3 separate regions of the Homo sapiens genome follow, and all the other regions are linked to region 3. The links come from fine-mapping of genetic effects on gene expression. A gene starts in region 3. Each other region holds a variant in brackets. All regions are shown on one strand. Distances are from middle to middle. Region 1 overlaps KTN1 (kinectin 1). Region 2 has its middle 37 kb from the start of KTN1-AS1. Region 3 holds the start of KTN1 (kinectin 1).

Region 1 (8,182 bases), 33 kb after region 3:
GATTTTTGAATTTTTAGTAGAGACGGGGTTTCACCATGTTGATCAGACTGCTCTCGAATTCCTGACCTCAAGTGATCCGCCTGCCTCGGCCTCCCAAAGTGCTGGGATTACAGGCATGAGCCACCATGCCCAGCCTGTGAACATCTTTCTATATGTTTTTTTCTTGCAAATAAATTCCTAGGGATAAAGAATTGGGATTGTTGGGTTAAAGGAATGCAAACATTTTCTTCTTTTTTATTCTTCTAAAAAAAAAAAAACAGGATACATGTGGAGAACGTGCAGGTTTATTACATAGGTATATGTGTGTCATGGTGGTTTGCTGCACCTACTGACCCATCCTGTACGTTCCCTCCTCTCAGCCCCCACCCGCAACAGGCCCTGGTGTGTGTTGTTCCCCTCTCTGTGTCCATATGTTCTCAGTGTTCCACTCCGACTTATGAGTGAGAACATGTGGTGTTTGGTGTTCTGTTCCTGTGGTAGTTTGCTGAGGATGATGGCTTCCACCTTCATCCATGTCCCTGCCGAGGACATGATCTCATTCCTTTTTATGGCTGCAGCAAACATTTTCTTGATTCTTCATCTCTTGGTGTCTAGTTAGGTTCCTCTAAATGCATAGTGAGACTCAGGTGAGCTCAAGTGAAGGTGAATTGAATTGTGTGAAGAGAGACTCCCGTGAAAATCCAGAGACAGAAAGCTTGATTCCTTCACGCCTATATATGGGACCTGGGAAAGGAAACTAGAAAATCATTAAAACATTTGAAGAATCAGTGTTTCAGAATTCTTGTGGTCTCATACCCTCTCTTCTTGAACATTTGCTACTTTTTCTTTCTATACAGGTGAATTTGCTGTGCTTGATCATAATTTCTGCTTTCCTAAAACCTAGGTTTGTACAGGGCTGCAGCTTATTCATTAGGCCTTTTTGACTTTTACCCCTTTTTTCAGCTTCTATTACTGCTGCTAAGTGCCTTAGCGTCTCTTCTTCACCAAAGCAAAAACTCGAAGCATTCCAACTCATTGTTTTGTGTTTTTTCTCCCTCGACTGCCCAGCTTTTGTTGAATAGGCTGTGTATTCTATGGATGCTATGTTTAAAAAAAAATTCTGGGCTCTTTTAAAGCATTCCTGGTTGACGAATCACACTTAATGGAGGCACAGTGAAATGTGTCTAATTTTAAAACCTGGATAGTTCATGTTAATTTGAATTATCAGGGAAACAATTCTGTATGGAGTTTCTTTTAGTATTTTGTTAGCACATGATTCCTTTTCCCCCTTAACTTGTTAAAACCTTGTCTTAGTAAATCTAGGGTATAACTAATACTATTAAAAAATTGCTTATGGAAGTATGAAATGTTACTTCAGTCATATAGATTAATAGCATGCCTGTTGAACAAACGACAGTCATTCCTTGGTATATGCAGGAGATTGGCTTCAGGACCCCTGTGTATACCTAAATCTAAGCATGCTGGAAGTCCTGGAGTACTGTGGAACCTGAGTATACAAAGTTGACCCTCCATATACTTGGGTTTCACGTCCAGCAAATACGTATTTTCAGTAACAATTGGTTAAAAAAAAAATTCATGTGTAAGTGTACCTGTGCAGTTCAAACCCGTGTTGTTACAGTTCTGGCAAAGTCTTATATTCAATAAACTCACATTTATCCAATTTAAAATCAGGTATTTTCTTAGGTGTAAAATAATTCTTAGAATAAGTTACCCGTTTAGGTAGAATTTGGTTTCTTTATCTAATCATGACATATCAAGACTCTCCAAATTGATAATTTAAAAACTTAAAAAATTCTCAGATTTATTTTTACATTAAAAGTGTAGCAATTAACTTTAATTTGCTTTATCCTAAACATGTCCTGATGTTTAATTATATCTGTATTATATACCTTGTCTTTTTCTACAACACATTTGAGATGAATAAGAATACAAGTCACTTTTATGTGGCTTATGCATGTTTGTAAGGAGCATCAATATCTAGAATCTCAACATCAGAATCATTTATACTTTGAGATTTAATTTTAGCAGAAACTACCCTTCACGTAAGTGATATGTATATTCAAGGCAGATGTTGGTAGTCAAATTACATCGCCACCCGCCCCCTTCCCGCCCCGGGCGTACTTACTGAGTCCATCTAAAAGTAGGGCTGATGTTCTGTTGATGAGGCAAAGCCTTTTATTTAGCAATTTCGGTAGGATGTTGATGGCAGCCTCGCTTTTGCTGTATAACTTGTTTTGTGCAGTATGGGGTGCCTTTAAAAAACTGAGATAAGTTCCTAACTTGTAATTTATTTCACTATTTTATTTTTTTGAGACAGAGACTTGCTCTGTTGCCCAGGCTTGGAGTGCAGTGGCAGAGTCACAGGTCACTGAAGCCTCGACTTCAAAGGCTCAGGTGATCCTCTCACCTCAGCCTGCAAGTAGCTGGGACTACAGGCTCACTTAACTACGCCCAGCTAATTTTCTTGTCTTTTTTTTTTTTTTTTTTTGTAAAGGCAGGGTTTCGCCATGTTGCCCAGGGTAGACTGGAACTCCTAGGCTCAAGTGATCCGTCTGCCTCAGCCTCCTAAAGTGGTGGGATTCAGGCATGAGCCACTGCGCTTGGTCTGTAATTTATTTTAATGCAAAATGCCACATCCTAACATTTCAATTTTAATTTTATTAGATTTTTATATCCTTGATAGATCCCACTGCATCATGAGGCTGATAGTCACTGGTGTAAAGATGCAAGCAGTTGGTGACTGGTCTTAATCTGTAAATAAACCACCTCTTTTTGCGTGTGTGTGCATTTCAGAATATGACACTTTTAATGAATGTCCATTGAGTTGGTAATAGTACCTCCTTATTTTCACGTGTAGTAGTTATCAACACTGTACAATAAACAAAAAAGTTAACTACTAATAAAGTACCAAAAGTGGATATTTCGGGAAAAGAAAGTAATGAATATTTAAATTTTTTCTCTTCAATTAGGATATTTTCACATGATTTAGAAATGGAAGGATGTTTTCTACTCCTTCTAGTTACCACTTGTCTTATTTTTCATAGTATATATGAATTGTAGTTGGCAAATAAATCAAGAATGTGATTTAAAGAACTAACCTGTTTAGATTTGTAGGTCAGGTTAGATTTGAAATGCCACTTGAAAGAGCAGCAGTTTTGACTTTAATTTTTATGAGACTGACAGGTTCTTTTTTTTTTTTTGTCCCCACCTTCTTCCCTATTTAGGTTTTATAGGATCACATTGACAAAAGTACCATGGAGTTTTATGAGTCAGCATATTTTATTGTTCTTATTCCTTCAATAGTTATTACAGTAATTTTCCTCTTCTTCTGGCTTTTCATGAAAGAAACATTATATGATGAAGTTCTTGCAAAACAGAAAAGAGAACAAAAGCTTATTCCTACCAAAACAGATAAAAAGAAAGCAGAAAAGAAAAAGAATAAAAAGAAAGAAATCCAGAATGGAAACCTCCATGAATCCGACTCTGAGAGTGTACCTCGAGACTTTAAATTATCAGATGCTTTGGC[A/T]GTAGAAGATGATCAAGTTGCACCTGTTCCATTGAATGTCGTTGAAACTTCAAGTAGTGTTAGGGAAAGAAAAAAGAAGGAAAAGAAACAAAAGCCTGTGCTTGAAGAGCAGGTCATCAAAGAAAGTGACGCATCAAAGATTCCTGGCAAAAAAGTAGAACCTGTCCCAGTTACTAAACAGCCCACCCCTCCCTCTGAAGCAGCTGCCTCGAAGAAGAAACCAGGGCAGAAGAAGTCTAAAAATGGAAGCGGTATTGTAATCTATTTAATCTATTTAATTTTATTGTATGATTTGGAGCTTGGAATTGAGATATTCTGTTAGGTACATACACAGAATGTTTAATATTGAATTTGAAACCATGATTATTCATTTCATTATGTGTTTGCTTCATTAACATTAATTGCTGGTAGAAATTAGTATTGATCATAAAATAGCACTTTAAACTTCAGGGCCTGATGCAGTGGCTCATGCCTGTAATCCTAGCACATTGGGAGGCTGAAGTGGGAGGACCCCTTGAGCCCAGGTGTTTGAGACCAGCCTGGGCAACAAAGTGAGACCTCATCTCTACAAGAAATTAAAAGAAAAAAAAAAAACCCCATACATCTTATAAATATCCAACTTTGGCTATTTTACTTAAAACCACTTAGGACCTGTAAATATCAGCAGTTACGAACTTTCTAAATGATATGGTAAGAATTAAAGGTGAAAAGCTAAAATCAGATATCATTTCTCACCCTTGATTGCTTCATTTTGCTAACATTTATCATATATCTGTTTTATGCTAGGCATTATGCTAGGTATTAGGGCTACAGAGATGAATAGTGCGTTTTCGAGGTAGTCGTGTGCTAGCTGTAGACACAGATAGGTCATTATGAAAGATTTAGTGTAATGGTCTAGATATGTCTAAACCAGTGTAGGAATTCTAAGGTAGACCACTTAAAGCAAGTAATGCCAGAAATTTTTAAAGTTTGGTTAAGTACTAGTTAGGTTTTTTGGGTGGATGGGGAGGGGAGGGAGATTCCAGGGAAAGGGGGTTGATAGGTACAATGGAAAAGCCTTGAAAATTGGCGTGGCGATGTGTGAAACTGTAAACAGTTTGTTTTATTTGAAAGGACTTGTATGTACCATTAAGTCATTTGTGTGTCTTAACTTGTAGGAGGTTATATTTGATTTTTTTTTTTTTTTTTTTGAGATGGGAGTCTCACACTCTCACCCAGGCTGGAGTGCAGTGGTGCGATCTTGGCTCAGTGTGTCCTCTGCTGCCCAAGTTCAAGTGATTCTCCTGCCTCAGCCTCCCGAGTAGCTGGAATTATAGGCGTGTATTTTTAGTAGAGATGGGGTTTCACAATATTGGCCAGAGTGGTCTCGAACTCCTGACCTCAAATGATCCGCCTGCCTTGGCCTCACAAAGTGCTGAAATTACAGGCGTGAGCCACCACGCTTGACCCGGTTGTATTGGATTTTAAATATTTGCATGTCAGCTAGGATCAAGGCATAGTAAGAACTACATGTTTTAGTTGGGGAAAAGGACACGTAAGCCAGTAAAAAAAATGTGGTTTATGTAGGAGATAGAGAAAGTATAGAGGAAATATAGAAGCTAAAGCAACTACTGCTTATGCTGGGCTGAAAGGCTTTACAGGGGAGGCAGTTCCTGAGCATTGAATCGCTTCATCAAGCAGATAGTGGGGTCTCATTACTCATTGGCAGAATATCATGTAAAGGCACAGAGCTGCAAGAGTACAGTGTATTATTGAGCCATACAACGTGAGGTATAGAGAGTGGTAGGGAACAGAGCTGAAAAGATAGCAGTGGCTAGATCATGGTGGTTTTTGGATACTGTGCCAGGGAGCTAGGACTTCTTAGGTTAGCCATTGTTGAAGATTTTCAAGCAGTTTAGTTACATGGTCATATTTCTGTTTTAGAAAGATTTTTTTGGCAGAGCTAGCAAGAACAGATTTCATGGGGCAGTATTTGATGCCGGCAGACTAGTTAAGAGGTTATTTTAGTTTTCTAAAATTAAGATGTAGGCCTGAACTATGGTAGTGACAGAAGAAACAAAGTTGAGAAGTATGCAAAGTAAGAATGACACGAATAACCTCACTATATAGAGGTGTGGCAGATAAAGGAGAAGATAGGATTAAAGCTGATCTCCCAAGTTCTGAGTTAGGTTGGGGTTGGCAAACTGCAACCTGTGAGCCGCATGTAGCCCACTTCCTTTTTTTATGCCCATGAACCAAGAACACTTTTTGCATTTTAAATGGTTGGGAAATAGAATAATATTTTGAGAAATGTAAAAATGTAAAAAAAAGTCAAAATCTCAGTACTCATAAAGTGTTTTTATATGCAGCTACATTCATTCACTCATTCATAATATGTTTATGACTGGCTTTCATGCTGCAGTGGCAGACTTGAATAGTTGTACCAGAGACCATATGTCCTATAAGGTCTAAAGTTTTTACTACGTGGCCCTTTGCAGAAAAAGTTTGCCAACTTGTGCTTGGCAGATGGTTGGTAGCACTAAAATAGGTAATACTGGAGAGAGACTAGATGTGAATTGAGAAGAGAACACTTCCAGTTTGTGTTTCCAATGCCTGTGGGGCCATCTACGTAGAGCAACTCAGGATGCAGTAGGGTATGTAAATGTAGAAAAGTAGATTCAGAAGCCTTAAGCGTGAAGGTAGTAGAAGGCATGGGAGTAGATAGCTCATCCAAGGGAAGTATTTTAATTGAAGCCCCAACCCTGAGAACAAGCAGTATTCAGTAGAAGCAGTTCCCAAAGGATACCGCAAAGGAATATTTCAAGTGTAAGAAGAGAATTATCATGGGAACTGATAGGAGATAATTTATTTTATTTATTTTTATTGTGGCAAATTACAGCATGAAATTTACTATTTTAACAACTTTTAAGTGTGTAGTTTTGTGGTGGTAAGTACATTCACATTCTTATATAATCATCACCACTAGCCAAGTCCAGAACTCTTTCATCTTTTCCAAATGAAACTCTGTACGCATTATACACTAATTCCCCATTCTGCCTGCCTCCCCCTTTTCCCCCGTCCCTCCCCCTTCCCCCATATCTTGACAATTACCCTTCTACTTTCTGTCTTTATGAATTTGACTACTCTGGGAATGTCATATAAGTGAAATTATACGATATTTATCTTTTTGTCACTGCCATATTTTACTTAGCATAATGGAGAGGAGATAATTTTAAGAAAGGGGTAGAGACCAAAAGTATAAAATGCCAAAGAGTAGTCAAATAAGGAGTAATGAGTATTTGTAGAATATGGCATTTGGGACACTGGGGGATCTGAGTTAATCCTTTCGTGGAATGAAAGAGATAAAAATCAGGTTGCAATTAGCTGAGGAATGATTGGTAGAAAAGGAACTAAGAGTATTTTGTCAATATGTAAGGAAATGGATGTGGGATGCTGGGAATTATGGTGATGGGGAAGGGTTTTCTCTTCCTTCCCTTCCCTTCCTTCTTTTCCTTCCTTTCCTTCCCTTCCCTTCCTTCTTTTCCTTCCTTTCCTTCCCTTTCTTTCTTCCTTTTCTTCTTTCTTTCTCTCTTTCTCTCTCTCTTTTCTTTCTTCTTTCTTTCCTTTTTCTTTCGACAGGGTCTTGCTCTGTTGCTGAGGCTCGAGTGAATGGTGTGATCTTGGCTCACTGCACCTTCGACCTCCGGGGCTCAAGCTATCCTCCCACCTCAGCCCCAGAGTAGCTGGAACTACAGGTGTGCGCCACCACACCTGGCTAATTTTTTTTATTTTTTTCGTAGAGATGGAGTTTTGTAGAGATGAGGTTTCACCACTTTGCCCAGGTTGGTCTGGAACTCCTGGGTTCAAGTGATACTCCTGGGTTCAAGTGATCCACCTGCCTCAGCCTCCCAAAGTGCTGGGATTACAGGTGTGAGCAGCTGCACCTTGCTGTTTATTTTTTAAGATGATAGAGACTTGATCATGCCTATAGGCTCAGTAGGGTTGAAAATAGCTGAGGAATGGGAAAGGAGGAGTAAGTACATTGAAGAGCTGGTGTAGTGGAGTAAGAAAGCTAGAAAAAGTTATTGGTGAGAGCGTTATATGTCAGACTTTAAATTTTTAGTGGTAAAACATTCTGGGAATTACTCAGTGATTGCATCTTTTCCGTTATGTTCATTGTTTGCCACAATTATTTTTTTTGTTTGTGTTTAATAAAGATGACCAGGATAAAAAGGTGGAAACTCTCATGGTACCATCAAAAAGGCAAGAAGCATTGCCCCTCCACCAAGAGACTAAACAAGAAAGTGGATCAGGGAAGAAGAAAGCTTCATCAAAGAAACAAAAGACAGAAAATGGTGAGATGTTTAGATATGTATTTTTATAATGCTAATTCTAGAGAAGTACACCAGCACAAGGACCCTGGAATCTCACACGCTCTTTAGCTCCCAGTTTAATGTGTGCTAATGACAACTGTAATACTAATGCAGGTCTAAAATTATCTTTAGCCTTATGACTTTATAGCGCTTTGACAGATGGGCAGGGTGTACATTTGAGATGAAAAAGTTTATATACCATTTACAAAGGGCAAAGCATTTATAAATATTCTTAACTCAGTTTTGAAAAAATAAATAGCATACAGACCATAGAAGAAAAACATTCTTGAAATTTTGTGCTTTT
Region 2 (8,186 bases), 37 kb before region 3:
GAAACTTGTGTGGTCCAAAAACTTAAGCAGTACAAAATGCAGTCTTGTTATTTTGTGGTTAATAAAACTATTCAGAGTGCAAAATTACAACAAGGTAGAGTTGTTCATTGATTGCCCTGGATAATTTTAAGAGTTTGACTCTGCTATCCAGTCTATCCTGGTCCCTGCTGGAGTTTGATATCATATGGCAGCAGTTTATTGACATAAATATTTCTGGGGACAATTCTGGGTCCTGTGGCTGGCTGAGTCTTCTGGGACAGCAAAAATGATTCCAGGAATCTCTGGGTTAGTTGGCTCTCATCTCGATGGCTTAATCCAGAGACTGGGCCAAGAATATACTGTGGACTCAGGGACTCACTTCAAACTCTGCACTTCTTGAGATTGGAATTGTATGCATTTTCCCTCCCTGGCCTAGGCCTCATTTTCATATTCCTCTGCTGAAGATAATAATTTTCGCTGACTCTTGTTTGAGAATCAGGGTTGGGCAGATAATGGAAGCCAATTGACAATTGCCTTATATTTGAATTAATATAATTTCAGGTATGTCATCACTGTGGGTTTTGTTCGTTTGTTTTTATAGTAATTGGGATTAATTCATTATCTTTGACAAGTTGAAATCAGGCCAATTATCTGTTAGGCCAGTCGAAGTTTGAGAAGAAAAAACATGTTGTCATCTTAAAATGTAGTGATACTGAGCCTGCTTGTCCTCAGATATATTCCTCACTCTTCTCCTGCTCTGCAGGCCTGTTTCTCAGCACCTTGTACCAACTGAAATCTAGCTGAGTTTGACTAATGGGAGGCTGTTATAGCCAGAATAATGGTTCCTCAAAGATGTCCACACATTGCCTGGCAAAAGGGACTTTGTAGATGTGATTAAGGTTATGAGATGGAAAGATTATTGTGAATTAGCCATGTGGACTCACTCTAATCATATGAGCCCTTAAAACAGGAGAGAGTTCTCCGGCTGGGAGCAGGAGAGATAAGGCAGAGGGGAAGTCCGGGAAATTGGAAGCATGAGAAAGACTTGATCTGCCATTGCTGGCTCTGAAGATGAAGGGAGGCATGAACCAAGGAATGTGGGGGCAGCCTCTAGAGGTTGAAAGTCACTCCTATTTGACACTAAAGAAAGGAAACTGGGACCACAGTCTTACATTATCATGGAGCTGAATTTGCCAACAACCTGAAAGGGCTTGGAAGCAGATTCATACCTAGAGCCTTCAGAAAGGAGTGCAGCCCTGCCAACATCTTGATTTTGACCTTATGAGACTCTAAATAGGGGACCCAGGTGAGCCACACTGTACTGGGACTTCTGCTGTACATTTGTGACCCGTTGGGGTTGTAGTAATATTAGTTTTTCATATAGTCCCTCCAACCCAAGGGTCCTAAGAGCTTCCTGCTGTTGCTCTGCCCATCTGAGGTAACATCCATTCTCAGGTAGTCTTCTCAGGTAGTCTCAGATGCTGAGATCCAGTCTCAGCATCTTTTATCTCCTGTGTTATCAAGTCAGTGTAGTAAATTCCCTCTGCTTTAACTATTCTGAGTGGTTTCGATGTCCTAATTTGACCCTGTGTGACAATTATAGGATAATAGATATCTTGAAGTTTTTGGTGGTGTTGGAAGGGGGATGCAATCATTCATTCATTCAATAAACATTTATTGACAAGTCTATACTATATATCAGCAGTGAACAGGGAAGACAATCCTTGACTTCAATGAACTCTGCTCTTTAGTCAGGTAGGCAGAACTCTAATCAGGAATTGAAATAAAGCATTAGTATTGTGATAAGCGAAGAACAGAGGCCTATGAGAACATAGAGCAGGGAGTTCTTAAACTGATCTACGATCTAGAGAAGGATTCAATAAAGAGGAAATATTTAATGAGACTTGAAGATTGAGTAGGCTTATCCAGATCTTCCAAAAGTATAATTAATAAGGTGGGAAAGTGGGGTTGGTAGAGATTAAAACAACCCTGTTTTCTCCTGCTAGAACTTTAAATTGTTTTATTAAAAACAGTTTCTCTCAGTCCTGACTCTGTTGATAATATCAAGGTATTGGTTTTGAATAAACACTATGAGTCAGCAGGGTTACAGTAAACTCATAAGCTTAGTCAATGTCTGATTCTTGTCTGTGCAGAAGGAATGAATCAATAATGTGAAGGAAAGGTTAATACCATTTTCAAATATTATAAAGTTCTGTTGGATTGCCTAACCCAGCAGCCATTCTCAATTCCTTTCTTGCCTGCCCATCACATTTTCATTCAGAGGCTTCTTTTCCCAGCCTCTTGTAGCTGGGAGCATCCCTGAAACATAGGTCTGGTCAACCAGACTGAAGCAGGATTTGTTGAGGATTTTCTGTCTTCCTAGTGAAAAGGACAGACGGGGCTTATGCTGCTTTTCCTCTCTTCGTACCTTGAATTGAGATATAATGTCTGAAATCACAACAGCTATTTTGTGGTCACGAGGCAACAAATGCAAATTTAAAAGCCATTATGATAAAGCATGGTCTATAGTAGAAGAGTATTTCCCAAATCCTGTTTGCTCCTTATATAGAATCTAGCCTTAGAAGCCTTTGACTTGAGCTTTACTGAGGAAGAAACTGCATATGTCAAGCAGGAAAAACAAAAGCAAAAATGAGCCTTTTTCTTTACTATATAAGTAATATGTGTCAATTTTAGATAAATTACATATGATGTGTGAATTTTTAAAAAACCTAGATAGGACTTCTTGTTTCCCACCTGGCATATAAGAAGCTTAGAAGTTACCACGCTGGCCTTACAATAAGTAAAAAGCTGAACAAACTGAAAAATCGAGAACTCTTCTTAGATCTGTCAGAGAGTGAGATCACAGGGCAAACTGCTGCCTCAAAGATTGGAGAGAGACAGGCAGAAGCAGAATCACAACTTACTGGAGCAGAAACCTCTGCGGAACCAGTGACAGGATAACTGAACTGTAATTGATGAATTAATAGAGGCTCAGTGTGGGCAGCTCTCAGAGTTAAAAATTCCAGGGAGACCCAGTCAAGGTGGGGATGGGGGCACACTTTTGTGAGTTTTACTTCTGGGAACTCTACCAGCTCCTCACAATAAATATCGGATAATGTTATTGGATAATAAAGGAATAGGAACAATATTTGAAGCAATAATGACTGAGAATTTCCCCCAAATTAATGTCAGACACCAAACCACAGATCCAGGAAGCTCAAAATCAAGCAAGATAAATGCCAAAAACATTGCAACTATACATACGATATTAGATCATAAATATTGTGCTTCTGGCAGGGGGAGGGGAAAAAGAAACCATTTTGAAATACACCAGAGCGTTTTATTTTTCCTAACAAGGCCTGCCTCAGGAGAAACTATTTTACCAGAGCCCTACTTGCTGGGGCTTTATCACGGCCTAACCTACCTGGGGGAAGTGAAAGACCCAACTCCAGCCTCCTCTAGCTATCTTGTCTCACCTAAGAGGAAAAACACCTGAAAAGCACTTGTGAAGTTCACAGTGCAGGGGCACAGGCTCAACAAAAGACTGAGACCAGGCTGGGTGCAGTGGCTCACAACTGTAATCCTAGCACTTTGGGAGGCTGAGGCGGGCGGATCACCAGAGGTCAGGAGTTTGAGACCAGCCTGGCCAACGTGGTGAAACCCCGTCTCTACTAAAAATACAAAAATTAGACAGGCATGGTGGTGCATGCCTACAATCCCAGCCACTTGGGAGGCTGAGGCAGGAGAATTGCTTGAACCAGGGAGGCAGAGGTTGCAGTGAGCTGAGATTGCGCCACTGTACTCCAGCCTGGGCGACAGAGCAAGACTCTGTCTCAAAAAAAAAAAAGAAAGACAACAACAATAAAAACTGAGACCTAATCGTAGGACTATAGAACACTTCCTCCCCCTCCGCCCAGACACCTTACCACTGCATTACTAAAATCCTATTTACTTTACTTTTTTTTTTTAAAACTCAGTACACCATGTTCACCTTTAACAAAAGCTTAAAAGGCATACTAAAAGGCAAAAAATGCTGTTTGAAGAGACTGAATGAGCATCAGAACCAGACTCAGATATGACAGGAATGTTGGAATTATCTGACTAGGAATTTAAAAAACTATAATTGCTCTCTCCTCCTGCCACCCAAGATGCTGAAAAGAAGGCCAAGGGCAAAAAGGTGGCTCTGGCCTCTGCTGTCGTAAAGAAGCAGCAGGCCAAGAAAGTGGTGAATCCCTGTTTGAGAAAAAGCCTAAGAATTCTGGCATCGGACAGGACATCCGGCCTGAAAGCGAGCTCACTCGTTTTGTGAAATGGCCCCACTATATGAGGGCAGAGAGCCATTCTCTA[T/C]AAGCGGCTGAAAGTGCCTCTTGCGATTAACCAGTTTACCCAGGACCTGGAAGGCCAAACAGCTACTCAGCTGTTTAAGCTGGCCCAGAGACAAAGCAAGAGAAGCAGCAGAGGCTGTTGGCCCTGGCTGAGAAGAAAGCTCTGGGCAAAGGGGGCATCCCCACTAAGAGACCACCGGTCCTTCGAGCAGGAGTTAACACCGTCACCACCTTGGTGGAGAACAAGAAGGCTCAGCCCGTGGTGACTGCACAGGATGTCGAGCCCATCAAGCTGGTTGTCTTCCTGCCTGCCCTGTGCCATAAAATGGAGGTCCCTTACTGCGTTATCAAAAGGAAGGCAAGGCTGGGATGTCTAGTCCACAGGAAGACCTGCACCAATGCTGCTTTCACACAGGTTAACTCGGAAAACAAAGGGGCTTTGGCTAAGCTGGTGGAAGCTATCAGGACCAATTACAATGACAGATCTGATGAGATCTGCCGTCACTGGGGAGGCAAGGCCCTGGGTCCCAAGTCTGTGGCTCACATTGCCCATATGGAAAAGGCAAAGGCTAAAGAACTTGCCACCAAAGTGAGTTAAAGGTACACTGTTGAGTTTTCTGTATATAAAAATAATTAAAATAATACAAATTCTCCCAAAAAAACTATAATCGATAAGCTAAGGGTTTTAATGATAAAAGTAGACAACATGGAATAGACAAATAACATAAACAGAGAGATGAGTATTCTAAAAAAATGCTAGAGATATGAAAAGACTGTTACAGAAATGAAGAATGCCTTTGATGGGCTCATTAGAGACTGGATATGGCTAAGGAAAGAATCTCTGAGCTAGAGGATATGGCAATAGGAACTTGTAAAACTGAAAAGCAGAGAGAAAAAAGACTGAAAAATCAGAACACAATATTCAAAACTGTGGGACAACTACAGAAAGTATAGCATATACATAAATGGGAATACCAGAAGGATAAGAAAGGAACAGAAGCAATATTTGAAGCAATAAAGACTGAGAATTTCCCCAAATTAATGTCAGACACCAAAGCACAGATCCAGGAAGCTCAGAGAACATCAAGCAGGATAAATGCCAAAAAAAAAAAAAAAAAAAAAATTACAACTAAACATATTATATTCAAATTTCAGATGAAGACAAAGAAAAATTTGAAAAGAGCCAGAGAAACAATAATCTCCCTTTTGAGGAAGAAAGATAAGGATTACATATGACCTCTCCACAGTAACCATGCAAACAAGAAGAGAATGGAGTAAAATATTTAAAAGTACTAAGAGGAGGAAAAAAAATCCACCAACCGGCTGGGCGTGGTGGCTCATGCCTATAATCCCAGCACTTTGGGAGGCTGAGGCCGGTGGATCACCTGATGTCAGGAGTTCGAGACCAGCCTGGCCAACATGGTGAAACCCTGTCTCTACTAAAAATAAAAAACTTAGCTGGGCATGGTGGCGCATGCCTGTAATCCCAGCTACTCGGGAGGCTGAGGCAGGAGAATCACTTGAACCTGGGAGGCAGAGGTTGCAGTGAGAGATCATGCCACTGCTCTCCAGCCTGGCCCACAGAGCAAGACTTTGTCTCAAAAAAAAGAAAGAAAGAAAAGAAAAGAAAAGAAACCAACTTACATAATGATAAAAGGGTCAGTATTCCAAGAAGACATAATAATCCTTAATATGTATGCACCTAACTATAGGACATCAAAATACATAAAGTGAAAACTGATAGAATTGCAAGGAGAAATAGATGAACCCACTATTATAGTTGGAGATTTTAACACCCCTGTATCAGAAATGGACAAATACAGCAGACAGAAAATCAGTAAGTACATAGTTGAACTTAACAGCACCATCCATCAACAGGATATAGTTGGTATCTGTAGATTACTTCATCCAATAACAGGAGAAGATAGATTCTTCTCAAGATTCCATGGAACATTCACCAAGGCAGACCCATTTAATTTTTAACAAATTAAAAAGAATAAAAATCATACAATATCTCCTCTCAGACCACAATGAAATTAAACTTAGAAATCAATAACAGAAAGATATCTGGAAAATCCCCAAATACTTGGAGATTAAACACTTCGAAATAACACATAAGTCAAAAAAGAAATCTCAAGAAAAATTAAAAAATATTTTGAACTAAATGAAAGGAAAATACAACTTATCAAAATTTGTGGGATGCAGTGAAAGCAGTGCTTAGAAGGAAACTTATAGCATTAAATAAATATATTAGAAAAGAAGAAAAATCTACAATCAATCATCTAAGCTTCCACCTAAGTAAACTAGAAAAGGAAGAGCAAATTAAATTCGAAGTAAACAGAAGAAAAGAAATAATAAACATTTGAGCAGCAATCAATGAAACTGAAAACAGGAAGTCAATAGAGAAAGTCAATAAAATCAGTTTTTACAAAAAAGCTAGTTTTTTGTAAAGGTCAACAAAAGTAATAAGCCTCTAGCCAAGCTAAGAAAAATAGAGAGAGAACAAAAATGACTAATATCAGAAATGAAAAAGAGTACATGACTGCAGATCCCATAGATATTATTAATACATGGATGATAAAGGAATATTATGAACAGTTCTATATCCAGAAATTTGATAACCTAGATAAAAATGGACCAATTTCTTGAAAGACACTATCTGCCAAAACTCATGCAAGAAGAAATAGATGATCTGAATAGACTTGTGTCTACTACATAAATTGAATCAATAGTTAATAACCTTCCAAAACAGAAAGCCCAGATGGGTTCACTGGTAACTTTGCCAAACATTTAAGGAAGAAATTACATTAATTATTTACAGTCTCTTCTAGAAATAGAAGCAGAAGTAGTACTTCTTTACTCATTCTGTGAGGCCATAATTATCTTACTACCAAAATCAGACAAAGGCATTACAAGAAAACTACAGATATATCTCTCATGAACATAGATACAAAAATCCTCAACAAAATATTAACAAATTGACAATACCAGGTGGCAAGGTGGTTTGGATCCAGGCTATGAGGTGCTGGGAGCCTCAGTAGAACTTTCTGCCTCTGTTTCTTTAATGCAAGAGGAACCGATACAGAAGGGTGGAAAATGGCAGAGCTGCAGATGTTACTAGAGGAGATCCTGTCTCACAAGAGGGCACTGATAGAGAGTTACCAGAACCTGAACCAGGTGGCGAACTACTGTGAAGACAAGAGAAAAGCTTTAGAAGAGACCAAAGCCTACATAACCGGACCTCCAGTTAGTGTCACTTATCAAAAAACTACAGTGTCTAACAATGTACTCCAGTTGGTGAACATCCAAGCCTTTCAACTTTGAAGAATGGAGTCTTTCATCAATCATATCTCACAGATCATGGATATTAATAAAGAGAAAGTAGCTCGAAGAGATATTGGTATTTGGACAACAAATAAGACTACATCAAGAATTCACAAAATAATAGCGCCTGCAAATATGGAGCGTCTTATAAGGTATGTTTGGATACCTATTGCCTACACAGTTCTGAATGATGTGAACCATGGTGCCAAGCATGTAAATAACCAGCCTGCAAGAATTGGCACACTGCCAGCCAGGCGCAGTGGCTCACACCTGTAATCCCAGCACTTTGGGAGGCCAAGGTGGGTGGATCACCTGAGGTCAGGAGTTCACGACCAGCCTAGCCAATGTGGTGAAACCCTGTCTCTACTAAAAACACAAAAAATTAGCCAGGTGTGGTGGCGGGTGCCTGTAATCCCAGCTACTCGGGAGGCTGAGGCAGGAGAACTGCTTGAACCCGGGAGGCGAAGGTTACAGTGAGCTGAGATCGTGCTACTGCACTCCAGCCTGGGTGACAGAACAAAACACTGTCTCAAAAAAAAAAAAAAAAAAAAAAAGAAT
Region 3 (8,157 bases):
AAGTGGCTTGGATTTTTTCTTTCAATTGCCAGGTGTACTTGGACAAAAATGTACACATTTCAATGCTACATTCTTTCTGTTAGAAAAATTTACATGAAACTGGTTGATAGCCAGTATAATATTGCTGATTTAAAGTTACATATCTATTATTATGCAAGTGACAAAAAACATATCATAAGCAAAAATTGCGTATAAATGAAAATTCACATTTTAATAGTTTGTATACCTGAAGATTTACACCTTGGGAGTCAACATGGTATTGGGGCACGTACATGGGAATCGGAGTCAAAGAGCTCTAGGGTCAAGTAGCAGTTTGTGAGCCTTGTGTCTTTGCACTAGTTAGTTACCCGTGTGAGCCTGATACTACAATATGGGGTTGTTTCGAAGACCACATGAGCTAAGATACGTTAAATACCTGGCACAGTGCATATGCACAAATACTAGTTTCTCTGTCCTCATTTAATCCATTAATTTCCAATTCACTGGCAGCCTTTGAGGATGGGAGACATTAAGGTGGTTTTAATCATGTTAAGTAATGTTACATAATAGCTTTACCTCTCTACCTACTTCTGCCCAAATTTCCCTTGAAAGGCTCCAGGGATGTCTTGAGACTGTATGAACAAAGTAGAAACTTCCTTCTGCTTGAATAAGATTTCTTGCAGCTATTTAAAAGACTGGAAGAAGGCTGTTCCATTTATCTATTACATGACGAATTATAAAAAATTACAAAAATTATTTTATTTGTATGGGGTCAGAATTCTGTGGGGTCAGAAACTCAGGCAGTGCTTGGTTAAGTGATATTTTTGCTCCACATGGTATTAACTGGGGTCGCTTGGTGGCATTTAGCTTGTAGCATGGATGGTCTGGAGTTCAAGAAGGCTTCATTTATATTTCTGTCATCTTGATGGGGACAGTTGGAAGATGGTGCAGCTGAGCCCCTCTCCCACCCAATGTAGTCTCAGGGCCTCTCTACATGGTTTTTCCAGCAGGGTAGATGAACTTTTTACATGGATCTAAGAGACAGTGAGTGGAACTGCCTGTCTCGTATAGCCTGGACCCAGAAGTTGGCAAAGCGTCACTTCTGCCATATTCATTGGTCACAGCAGTCACAGAACCCTCCCAAATTCAAGAGGGAGGTCTACAGATCCCACCTTTCACGCAATGAGTGGCAGATAATTTTCAGTCATCTTTAATCTGTTATGACAGCACATGCTTGAAGACACAGGTCAAAAGAGCACAGTGCAGACCTTTATGAAGCACCTTTCTGTGACAGATACTTTGCTAGAATAGCTAATGACTTCTAGATCTGCAGCTGAAGAAGTTTCGATGAACCTTCCGTCTCCATTACTTGGGTGAAAGTGGACCTGGAATCCTCCAGCTGCTTCCATTATACTTTCATTTCTGCTATCCCTGATCTTGTGGAGTCAAGAGATATAATCTGTTACTCACGCATTACTCAAATCTCTACACAAGTCACCACTTATGGGAAAACTACCCTAGTCAAAACAGGAATAGCCAGCTTGTTCTCCATCTGCAGGGCAGGCATGTATTATTTGTCTTTAAAACTTTCCCCAAACTCAGAAAAAAGAGTTGTTACACGCAAAAAATTCAGAAGACAGTCTTCAGTAAATTGCAATTTTGTTAAATTAAAAAAAAATAGGATGTGTGCTCTTTAGGTAACAGTGTTTAGACTTTATAGTTTTCAATAAAATTTAATTTCTTAGTTGTTGCAACTAGAGGTACCTCAGATGCTGGGTGTGTTGCTAATCCTTTTTAACAAGTTAGTTGTTGGTTTCAGTGACACTGGAGGGTAGTAAATAGCAGCCAAAGTTAATTATATCGTAGGTTAATTATATGTGTTAACTATAGCTAATTATATTATACTACACTTTAAAACCTAGAGGGTTGGTGTTAATTCATAATAGGGCTTGCCTATTATGCATAACACTAGAGAAGCATAGCATTTCTAGTGAATCTTTTTTTTTTTTAAGACAGAGTCTTGCTCTGTTGCCCAGGCTGGAGTGCAGTGGCACCATCTTGGCTCACTGCAACCTCTGCCTCCTGGGTTCAAGCGATCCTCCTGCTCAGCCTCCCCAGTAGCTGGGATTATAGGCACCTGCCACCATGCCCAGCTAAGTTTTGTATTTTTAGTAGAGCTGGGGTTTCACCATGTTGGCCATGGTGGTCTCGAACTCCCGACCTCAGGTGATCCACCCAGCTCGGCCTCCCAAAGTGCTGGGATTACAGGTGTCAGCCACTGCGCCCGGCCTCTAGTAAATCTTTTTGTTTTGATGTGAATAAATAGAAAGCTTATAAAAAATAAAGCATTCAACCACTTCCCTTTCTATAGTCAAAGTTCAAACGCCAGAAAAGCCGAAATAGGTGATACAAAGTCATCCTTTAGTATAAGCAGTAGTATGTTTTGAGAAAATCCTAAACTCCACTCATTGTCTTACTTACAAGTGCACCGAAATATTATTGCCTGTAAATGACATTGCGGTTTTACTGGTCAGGAAAATGAATGATATAAATTTTTAATTCTAACCTAAAACCTGCGTTAGTACTAACCTGAGGAAATAACATGGTTGTTTGTAAGCTAATCAAGAGCCCTTAAACTCCATTACATAAATGATACACTTACCCTTTGTATTAAGGGACTAACGGCTTCGCTTTTCAACAAAGCTGGATCTTCTGGCACACGCTCAGAAGATAGCCAGTACTTCAGAGACAGATTGCTTTGAGGGCACTGGAACCGCTGAGGGGCAGAGTAATCCTAATGAGAAAGAAAAAAGAGGACGCCTCTGGAGTTAAAATAAGACAATGCATCTGTGGAGAACACGGTGACTGAAGACTGGCAGAATTCTCAATATCTCAGGCCACTATACACTGCGCAGTTTTCATTTGTATTTTGGAGGTGCTCTAGAAAACTTAGAAATGATTAGAATAAAAAGTATGGATACTTTTAACCAGCCCATGTACAGGAAATTCTGTTGGTGTAGAAACGGTTCTGCTGTTCATTCCTTAACTGCTTCTGTTCCCACTTTGTCAGATGTAGGGCGAGGTGGTGGTGGTGAGTCCTAATTTTTTCTATCTCTATCCACAGTCTGGAATCGTTAGGATTATTTTAAGCCTTCATAACATTTGCGGACAGCTTGGAGTGTTTTGTACATGTAGTGGGGCAGTGCCTGGCCTCCTGTGAGAGATTGATCATCGGTAAACAATCCACACGAAACTCACTTGCCAGTGGACGGGGAGGATCGCTGCCATCCTTTCAGCAAAGAGCAAACGAATAAGGAGAGATCCGGGCCCATCCCTCCTCGCGCAGCAGTTTCTAGATTTTTACCCCGGCTTCATAAATGGCTACCAGCTGGCAGTCACAACACTTTCATAATGTTTGCACACAACTCATTTGGGTCGCTTTCTTTTCTTTCCTTTTTTTTTTTTTTTTTTTGAGAGAAACGGAGAGTCTTACTCTCTCGCCCAGGCTGGAGTGCAGTGGCGAGATCTCGGCTCACTGCAACCTCCGCCTCCTAGATTCCTGCGATTCTCCTGTCTCAGCTTCCCAAGTAGCTGGGGCTACAGGCGTGCGCCACTATGCCCAGCTAATTTTTTGTACTTTTTTTGGCAGAGACGGGTTTTACTATATGTTGGCCAGGCTGGTCTCGAACTCCTGACCTCAGGTGATCCGCCTGCCTTGGCCTCCCAAAGTACTGGGGTTACAGGCGTGAACCACCGCGCCCGACCATTATTTGGGTCGCTTTCTAATTTCTTTCTCCGTTTGTAGCTAGCGTTGCCCGAAGGAGATTTCAGAGAGATCCCCTGGAGAAAGGGACGGGGGATGTCGTTTTCCAGTAATTTCTGGGGGAAATCTGGGATAGTCAGGGGGTAAATCTAGTGCCGTTTGCTGAAGTTAAAAGGCGTGGGGAGCCAGGTGGTGCCCTGGAGGGAGGGCCGCGCGAGACGAGACCAACCTTCGGGACAGGGGAGAGCGGGGCTACTGAACGCAGGGGATTCCGCTGAGCCTCCAGCCCCTGAGCGTCCACCTTCGGCCCAGCTGGGGGACGCGGTCTCGGGAAGAAAGCCCGGAATCCCGAGCCGGCCAGCCGCGAGCAGCGAGTACCGGAGCGCGTGGGCAGGCGCGCGGAGGCAGAGGCGGGCCGGCGGCTGTCCCTTTAAGGGGCCGGTCTCCCGGCGCCGCCGGCCCAGACGCCAGGACGTGCCGGGTCCGCCCCGCCCCGCCCCGAAGCCGCCCGTTTCCTGCCGAGCGGCGCGACGGCACCTGAGCGACTGCGGCGGCGGCGGCGGCGGCGGCGGCGCCTCGGAGCGGGCGGCCCGGGCTGTAGTGCCGGCGCCGCCGCGTCTTCCCGGTCTCCTTTCCCGGCCGCACAGGGTGAGGGAGAGCAGGCCGCACCGGGACGGGCGCCGGCGGCGGGGAGCGCGGGGGGAGGCGGCGCCGGCCGCGGGGTCCTGGGGCAGGCGGGAGGGCCGCGCCGGGCGGGGGGGCGCGGCCGCGGGGCCCGGACGCCGCCCGCTGGGTAGGCCTCGGGCATCCGGTTGCCGCCGCGGGGCTCTTGTTGGGGCCGGGACGCCGCAGGGGGCGGGCTCGGAGGGACCTCCTCGGCCTCGCGGGGCCGCTCTGGGCCCGACCCCGGCTCTGTCGCGGCACCCGGGGCGCGGCCGAGGGACACCCCCCACCCTCCCCAAGGACGACTCTCCCGAAGGCGAGGTCGACCCGAGCGGGCCCTGGGGTGACCGAGGCACCTATTTTTAGCCAAGCCTGAGGGCCCCCGGGAGGGAAGGCGGATTACCGCCTCCTCGGCCGGTGGACGGAGGCAGCGCGTCTCCGGCGGCGTCCCCGGGCCGGAGCTGGGCCACACTTACGCCATGCTGGAGTTCCAGTCCTCGCCGCTGCCTCCGGCGGTCTGGGCGCTCGCCCCCTTCCCCGGCGCCCCTCCCGCTGCCCTTTGCGAGTCCCCAGGTCAGGGCGGGAGGCGGTTGGGCACGGAAAGCAGCATGAGGGGGGACTTTGGAAAAATCCATGGACCACTCTCGACACCGGCGAAGTTATCCCTTCCTGTCCCCGAGGGGTGTGTCCTAGCGATTCGGCCTGACCCCTTCAGTTTCCAAAAGTGAGATTTTTGGCCTTGGGGACCTCGCCGGAAAACTACGCGGGAAGTCTAGAGAAGTCGTCTGGCTCTCAGCCATACGTCTGGTGTGGGATGTGCAGCCCCGCATGCTGGCGGTGAAGGCGCTGGGTGCACTAGATGTGGGCAGCCCCGGACGCGGGCAGCGGCGTCCCAGCCGGCCCCAGTTGCACCTTGACTAGGTTAGGTTGAAAGTAAGCTGTTCAGTGTTGGCCCTTCTTTCCTGTGGGAGGAAGGAGGAATCTAAATTCAGAACTGTGTTGGCAAACGGATTCCTTAGCCGCTATTTAAGTTAGTAGTGCTTAAAGAGCTACGGTTGAAGTTAACTGTTAAGGTGTGTGTGTGTGTGTGAGTGTGTGTGTGTGATGACTTTGTGGAAAGCCTTGAGTAAAGAGCTACGGTTGAAGTTAACTGTTAAGGTGTGTGTGTGTGTGATGACTTTGTGGAAAGCCTTGAGAAATGTAGACACTCATGGCCAGCCCAGCTAAAGATAAGCATCTTCGGTGAACTAAAGGTTCTGAATTGTATAGGAGTTGACTTAAAGTTAGAATTTTTGCTAAATTAGGTTGCATTTGTTTTCCTTAGCTTACCTAGCAGGCTAATGGCAACAGTGTCTCCAGTTTGGTCCGAAGCAATTGCTGGTGAGACTTGGGATAATGATCCCAAGCTGGTGAGACTTGGGATAATGATCCCAAGAATAACACTAAATTACTCTTGAGTATTTTGGGTAGACATGCCTTGCAGTAGACTTTCATATTTGATGTGCTGCCTGATAAAAAAGGCTCTTTTTTTTTTTCCTTTTTCCTTTTTTTTTAGTTTAAGGATCTAACCTGAAATAGCTGGGTCTGTTCATGAGTTTCCCTCCCACCCCAACATTGAGTTTCAAATGTCTCTTCTAATTTTGTAGCCTTCATCAGACATAACAATACCTTATCAAGTGAGCTTAGAGAATAAGGTGTTCTACTTGATTTACTTGAGGCTGATAATGAATTTGAAAATATAACAAGATCTATTGAAAAATTTTCTTAATACTTGAAAATTATAAAGAATATCAAGTATTTAACTCTTAATGATTCAGCGTCAGCATTATGAAGAGACATTTACGATTTTGTTTCCAATTTAGATCTTTCTGTATTCTTTTAATACCAGTAGTCTCTTCTGTTTGATGTTGTGTTTGTCCCTAAAAATGCCTCACTTCAGTCTCCCTTCTAGTTTATAGGCTTTAATCTGCTTTTGGTAGGGAGATCGTTTTAATAATTATATTTTTAATATCAGTCAATATGGCTTTTTAAAAGAGCCTAAGACGTGAAAACCTTTTTGAGACTTCTAAAGAACCCATATTAAGATTGTCACTGTTCTTAAGTTCTTAACTTGAATGTTAAGTTATGGTTAAAAGTTCTTAATCAGCCTGTCATGGTTAAGATGACACGTAGAATACTGAATCATAATTGTTTTTTTAAAAGTTGAATGTGTCTTATACATTTCCTATGTGTAAGTTAATTTCTTAACTTGAATGGAACATGTGTTTTTAATTGTATGCCTATAATTTTTATAGCAAATGAAGTTTTAACCTGAAAGATCTCCAATACTTTGTTAAAATATTAAATTGTTAATGAACTTAAGTGGTTCTAGGAAGGTTTTGGTTCTCTTGGGAATCTGACCTAATATGTAATAAGGAAATGAGAAAAATCGTGCTTTGCAAGATCGTTCATATATTTGAGAATACACCTTATGACCTGCTTGTTCTCTGTACTGTTTTTAGTGACTTTGAAGGTAAATCCAGAGTATACTTAGAGGATACAAGCAAGTAACTATTTCTCTAGAAGTGACATTGGTGATCACTCATGCTCAAAGAGAATTGCATTTCATTGCTTCCTCTTTCAGTTCCTGTGAACATGACTTTGTCCCAATCAAAAAATGTAATTTATTTTCAAATCACTGGGAAAATATTGGTCTAGATGAGAATATAAGCCTTTTTCCCTCCTCTATAAATAGAAAATTAAACATTAAGGGGAAGAACCTTATGTGCTGTGAACTAAGGGGTTTAATTTAACCTTCTGTATCTGAGGTCTAGAGAAAGAGAAATAATGACAGTTTACAACTGTGTGCCGAGCTGTTGTGCTTAAATGTGTTTTTGACAGAGGTGGCAGTGAAAACTAGGCTATTTTTCTTTTTTAAAAAATGGTACAAGCTTTTAATTGGTTTTATGTAAAAGAAAATAGGCAAGATATACTTTTAATTCTAACAATAGTTTTAGTAGATACTCTGATAGGAAATATAATATTCCTCGGAAATGTAGAAGACATACCCTAAAAAAAGTTATGATTTAGTATTTTACGAATCGTCCTAGCTACTACAGGGAGATTAAGAACTCTTCCGTAACTTAAATCTGGTTTCAGCAAAGTGATTTGTACACTAAATGTAATTTGTTTGCACTCTTCTTCCAGGACATTCTGCTTTTTGGGCTTTCTCCTTCCTAATTGCTTTGTTCATTCTATCTTACATCTTCTACTCTTAAACTTGACATGCTCAGTCCTTGTTTCACTTTTCTTTTTATATTCCTCTGACAATCTTATCCAGTGTCATGGTTTTAAATACCTATATGCTGATGGCTCCCATATTTATATCTCCAACCCAGACTTTCCACATGTGCTGTTAGGCCTATCCACTTGGATGTGCAGTAGTCAACTCCAACTAAATTTCCGTATTTTTCCTCAAACATGTTTGATGTTTGATGTTTCCATCAAACATTCAGGTAAAAAAACGTTGGAGTCATCCCTGACTTATTTCTTTCACACTTGGCATTCTGTGCTCTGTCTTATCTTGAAAATATAACCAGAATCCAATCAGTACTTACTGCTTCCACTGCTCACCAGCCTGGTGCAAGCCATTCTTATCTCTTACCTAGATTTCTGCAATTAGCCTCCTAACTGATCTCCCTGCCTCTGCCCTAACTCCCTGCAGTCTTTCCAACACAACAACTGGATCATATTACTTATCTTCTCAGAATGCT

Evidence for each region. PIP is the estimated chance that this variant, and not a neighbour inherited with it, causes the effect.
Region 1: its variant is fine-mapped to the expression of KTN1 in whole blood (TOPMed, PIP above 0.99).
Region 2: its variant is fine-mapped to the expression of KTN1 in whole blood (TOPMed, PIP above 0.99).

What each region holds. Positions count from the first base shown.
Region 1 is chr14:55,608,795-55,616,976 of GRCh38, forward strand. KTN1 (kinectin 1) reads left to right here. Exons shown (of 44, transcript NM_001079521.2): 2 at 3,225-3,777; 3 at 7,723-7,860. The coding sequence starts at 3,255. Among named protein-coding and RNA genes, the nearest start is that of KTN1, 33 kb to the left of the region's middle. The variant A/T (reference allele first, on the strand shown) is at 3,527.
Region 2 is chr14:55,539,274-55,547,459 of GRCh38, forward strand. It overlaps the pseudogene RPL7AP4 and the pseudogene ABI1P1. Among named protein-coding and RNA genes, the nearest start is that of KTN1-AS1, 37 kb to the right of the region's middle. The variant T/C (reference allele first, on the strand shown) is at 4,327.
Region 3 is chr14:55,575,965-55,584,121 of GRCh38, forward strand. KTN1 (kinectin 1) reads left to right here and starts at 4,243. Exons shown (of 44, transcript NM_001079521.2): 1 at 4,243-4,390. It overlaps KTN1-AS1 (KTN1 antisense RNA 1), which reads right to left and starts at 4,128. Exons shown (of 3, transcript NR_027123.1): 1 at 3,972-4,128; 2 at 2,642-2,773; 3 at 193-1,415. RefSeq lists enhancers at 3,468-3,587, 3,598-3,687 and silencers at 4,128-4,387, 4,448-5,087, 5,267-5,561.